Regions from separate parts of the Homo sapiens genome. Here region 2 is linked to region 1. Evidence: fine-mapped expression QTL. Tissue or cell type: tibial nerve. Region 1 holds a variant in brackets; the other region holds the start of a gene. All regions are shown on one strand. Distances are from middle to middle.

What was found. PIP is the estimated chance that this variant, and not a neighbour inherited with it, causes the effect.
Region 2: CTNNA2 starts here. The variant in region 1 is fine-mapped to the expression of CTNNA2 in tibial nerve (GTEx, PIP above 0.99).

The regions. Positions count from the first base shown.
Region 1 is chr2:79,102,904-79,105,671 of GRCh38, forward strand. No RefSeq gene overlaps it. Among named protein-coding and RNA genes, the nearest start is that of REG1A, 16 kb to the right of the region's middle. The variant C/T (reference allele first, on the strand shown) is at 1,393.
Region 2 is chr2:79,511,910-79,514,677 of GRCh38, forward strand. CTNNA2 (catenin alpha 2) reads left to right here and starts at 1,142. Exons shown (of 19, transcript NM_001282597.3): 1 at 1,142-1,298.

The DNA of each region.
Region 1 (2,768 bases):
GTTCATAGGTGTTTGTTATGTTAATCCAACTTATTTCTGCATTTAGTAAAAATATTTATGCTATCTTACAAGCTTATAGCCAGGTTAAGATATCTTTTTTCTTATAAATAAGAAAGTCAATCATATTCTTCAGACTTCATAAAAGATACAGTAGGTAGGAGTCCAGTATACTTGGTACCATAATAAGTGTATCTTGCAAAAAAAATGAACAAGTAATTAATAGTTTAAAATTAAAAAAATTCTTTGTGGCATAATTTTTTTAAATATGAGAGTTCTTATTTACTTCAAGAAGACTTAAAGCAAGCAAAAACATTCCAGATATAAAAGATCTAATACTTTAAAATACATAATGAAATACACTGTAACTGGCATGATATAAAACAGAGAGAGATTCAGTTCAATACTGTATCAACAATTGACACAGTATTCCCATAAAAATCTTTATTGCTACCAGTATCTGGAAACACATTGAGATGTTATTAACTTTATTGCTTGCACATGTGACTGGCCAAATTCCGCGTGCAAGCTAATAAAACTGATACCTTTACCTGGCAGCTACTTTGTTCCAAAGTGATGCCTTTTGCATATAAACTGTATTTCCTATCTGTTCAAGGTTTATCTCATTGTCCTCCAGAAAACAAGGCCCTTCCTGTGACATAGTTTTACAAGATTCCAAGAAGCTCATTTCAGGTCTTTCCCATCATATTCCCTCCAGCAGTCTTCTTGTATATGGAAAGCAGTCTCCTGGAAATCTAGTGTTAATATGTCCTTAAGTGGGGAAACTTTCTGATAAGCCTCCAATAACGCCAAGAAAATTCCAAGGCTATGGCTGATTCTAGGTGCTGTTTGCCATTTTCCAAGAGGTATTCTCTGCTTTCCACCTTTGGAATTGAGATTTTAGACATATGAGAGAGAGATAATCTCCCACTTGTTTAAATCCTTGGCAGGCATGTAAATAATAGCCTGTCTGCAAACTTTAGACTGGAAAAGAAAGGAGCTGAACAAATAACAAATGCAGCAAGGACATTCCATGGTCTGCTGTGTTCTGCAGGTGTAAGGAAACCTACTTATAAGTTAGCCTATTCTGCTTCACAAGAAACCTCTGATTTTTAAACATTAATTTTTGTCACATGCTGTCTATGCCAGGCACAATTCTAAATGCTTGCCTAATTAGAAACCATTTAATCCCCATGAAAACCTAATAATGTAGGTGCTGCTACGAACCATATTTGACACATAAAAAAAATGAAGGCAAGAGAAAGGCTAGGTAACTCCTGCAAGATTAAAACAGCTGCTAACACAGGAATAGAAAACCAAATATTGCATGATCTCACTTAAAAGTGTGAGCCAAACATCAAGTACATATGGACACAAAGAAAGGAACAACAGACA[C/T]AGGGCCTACTTGAAGATAGAAGGTGGAAGGAAAGTAAGGATTGAAAATCTACCTATCAGATACTATGCATATTACCTGGGTGATGAAACAATCCATACATCAAACTCCTGCAACACACAATTTGCCTGTATAACAAACGTGCACATGTACCCCTGAACCGAAAATAAAATTTTAAAAAACCAAACAGCTACTATGTGTTGGCACTAGATTCAGACATGCAGTTTAGCTCCAGGGCCATTCCCTGAGTTCCCAAAATACTGATTTTCCTCTACTTATTTCCACATGCAACTCATCCAGCTATCTGGATTCTGAATGATTTCAACACATAACCACCCATTGATTATGGTCAAGGACAGAGGCTCCACAAGAAGAGCTTAAAAAGTGAATAAATGTAAGACATCACCCAATTCTTAACCTGCAATTTAATTTGTCTTTTACACACACACTAGCACCACAAACCCGTGTGTGTGTGTGTGTGTGTGTGTGCACGCGTGTGTGTGCTCCTGAAAGGAGGAATTGTTCTTTAGAATCCTCATGGCCTGGTCACCACATAAAAGTCCCACCTCTTAACATTGTTCCAATGGCAATTAAATTTCAACATGAACTTTGGAGAAGACAAACATTCAAACTGCAGCATTCTAGCTGCCTAAAAATCATGTATTTCTCAGGTACAAAATGTTTCATTTCATCCCAAAAGCCCCAAAAGTCTTAGCTCATTATAGTATCCTCTTAAAAGTCTAAGGTCCAGATTATCATCTAAATATAATCAAAATCAGATACGTGTGAAAGTCAAGTATGATTCATTCTGAGGCACATGTTTCTCCAGCTGTGAAATCAAGTAAGTTATGTACTTCCACAATATAGTGATGGGACAGGCACAGGATGGACAGCCTCATTCCAAAAGAGAGAAATGGAAAATAAAAATAAATAATAAGTCTGTAATAAGTCTGTAATAAGCCCAATTCCCACCAAAGCAAATAACATTAAATCTTGAGGTTTGAGAATAATCGTCTTTGGCTCCAAGTCAAACCTTCTCTACATATTGGGGTGAGGGTTGGGCCCCCATGATTTTGCTGGATGCATCCCAGGAAGTAGCTATCAGAGGTTAGAGTCTCTTTTATGCAGCCCTCTACAGGTGGCATCTCACACTGCTGGATCTACAGTTAGGGTTTTGAAGAAAACCCACTCCCCAAAGTTCTACTAGTAATTGCCCTAGTGGACAAACTCTGTGGTGACCCTGTCCTTGTGTCAATTATTTGAGCCCCGAGTCTCTCTGAGGCATCTTTTGAAATCTATAATAGGCAAGGCTACAAAATTAGCAACCAGTGGGCACTGCCAAGATTTACATCCTGCACCTTCTGGAATGGTGGATGTA
Region 2 (2,768 bases), 410 kb after region 1:
ACCAAACAGGTAGCATGTTGTGAACTTAGCGTCGGTTGTGTCATACTAAACTTCCACAGATTTTCTTTTTGTTTCTCTCTCTTGATTTAAAACAAAACAAAATTGTCATTTGGCACTGTGGCAGAACAAAGATGACTGTAACTTATATTTCTCATCTGATGTAGCTGTGTACCTTTTTCACTGTTAGCACCTCTGTAACAGTTACATTCCAGCAACATCGAGTCCCAGCTGCCGATGGCTGGCGGCGCAAACACTCCCTGCCCTAGCTATGTAAGTTCCCCAACTACAGTATAACCTCTCAGAGGACGAACATTTTTGGATATCTCAAAATGCCTAAGTACAGTGTCTGGTACAAACTAGGAGCCAAGTAATATCCACTGAATCAAGAAAAGAATCACAATGCCTTCCACGGAGAAAATATTCAACAAAGGCTTGTTAAATGAGCAAATATTCCAGTTGTTTTAACAATTCCATCCTCTTCTAGGTTCTTTTAAAGTCCAAATCTCCCTTCCTCTCCCCTCGGGACTCCACATCCCAACAAACCTCCCTTCCGCGGCAGTCACTACCTTTGCAGCACTCTGGCCCTGCCCTCCTCCTGCCACGTGTCGGACCCCTGCTGGGCTGGCCCTCCTTTCCTACTCTGCGACACCCCTATCCCCCCCGCCCCTATCCTGCCCGCTCCCGCACCCGGTCCCTCTCCCCGGGCCTCGCGACTCCGGCGATTCAGCTCCGGGTCCCCGCCCGCAGGGTAACGCGGTTGTCATGGACACGGCACCTGCGCCCTACGGCGGTGCCCCTTCGCCGCCGTCCCCTCCCCCCACCTGCGGCGCCGAGCCTGCCGCGCCTCCAGAGCTCCGCCCTACCCCGCCCCGCCCTTTCGGGCGCTCCCCAGGCCGCGCGCGCCCGCGGCCCCCCACCCAGCCACCCCTCGATGCCCGGTGCCTTTCCAGGCGCCGCGGAGCCACGGGGACCGCGGGGGCGCGCGAGCGAGCAAGCGGCCGCGCATGCGCACTGGCTGCCTCCCCTAGCGGCGATCCGGGCCGCTGCCGCTCGCGCTTGGGCAGGACGCGGGGCGGGCGGGGGGAGGGGGGAGCGGCTTCGCTTCCAGCCCCGAGTGAGGCGGAGACCCAGGCGGGCGGGCAGAGCAGGCGGCACCGCACCTCGGCCAGAGGCGGCTGCAGCAGCTGCTGCCCTTGTCCCTGCCGCCGCCTCTCCAGTCCCTTCTGTGATTACCACTCCAGCTGCTGGGAACGGGCGAGAAAGAGGAGGAGGCGAGAAACTCCCACCGACCCACAGAGGTGAGTCCCGGGCAGAGCATCCTCCATCCCTGCCTGCCTCCCTCCCTCCCCACCTCCCTCCCATCCTCTCCATCCTCCCCCCTCCCCGCTCCCCAACCCTCCCTCCCTCATCCTTCCCAACATCCCTCTCTCCTCTCCCCTCCTTTCTCCCTTCCAGCCTTTCTTTCATCCCTTTCTTCCTCTCTCCCAGCCCCACTTCCTTCCCACCCTTTCTTTCTTCCCCGTCTTCCTTGCAGCCACTCGCCCTAGAGCACAGCTCTGCATCCCTTTCCTCTTGTCTCCATCTCTTCTTCCCCCCTTTCTTACCTCTTCCCCGGTGGGAGGGTGGGAGCATCCCTTGCCTGCTACAACTGTCCGGATTCAGGGGTTCCAGAAAATTGGGTGCATATACTGAGAGACACACTCTTAAACAGCGGGTGCCCTGCAGATTCCTAAATTTTTAGGATGAAGGGTCAAGTTGGGTAGAGTACTGGGAACTGGAGGGAGAAGAGGATCGAAGAAGAATCTGTGGATTTGTGCTATATTAGGGTGGGGGTGGGGAGGGTTGTCACTTGGACATGCTGCCAACAGCCCCCATACCCCTCTTCAGCAGTTTCTTTTTTTCTTCTGGGAATTACATATTTCCAGTGTGTGTCTCACCAATTTAAAATCCAGCCTTCCCTGCTTTGATTGTCTCCGTGAGAAACCACAACGAAAAAGGAGAAGAGAGGAAAGGAACAAGAGAGAAAAAGGGGAGGGGAGAGGAAGGGAGGTGGCAGTGGAAGCTTGTGTTCTTTTCCCCTAGGCCTCTTTGGTTTGACATTTTCAAACCACCCGCCTCATATTTGGCTTGGAATTGAACCCGTGTGTCCTTGGTCCTGTCACTACCTACTTCAAAGGCAGAAACTCTCTAAACTTTAATGCCTGTGCACCACAGCATTATTTATGGAATGTTTTGCTCAGCATACAAAATACCAAGATAGAAAGGTTTGGGAAAATAGGGAGCAGAAGGGTGGAAGAGAGGTACTTTTGTTCATCATGGGTTAACTTCTCAAGTAGGATAATGGTTAGACAGTTTTGGAGAAATGAGGTTATACTCCACAGGCTTGTAAATATACCATTTAGATGGCATTAGCTGCATTAGAGCCTTTAACAGACACCCTTACCCATTTTCACCCACCTCGTAGGACCCCTGAAGATGTTTAAAGAGAAACATGCTGTGTGATTCTGTTTGTGGCTTACACCAATGGAAAAGTTGAATTAGCTTCGGAACCATTGTTAATAATTTAAAATTGCTGTTGGTTTTACATCACTTATTTTCACAGAATGCTATAATTTACCTTGCTCTCTTCAGCTTGCATTCTAACCCCTTACATTATACATGTTATTGGCAATTTGACAATTCTTTCTGTTAGCATTGCTGCTGTAAAGTTTATTTTTACATGGCGGGACAGCCATGCCTCAGAATGTTTAGCATATTTATCATCTCAG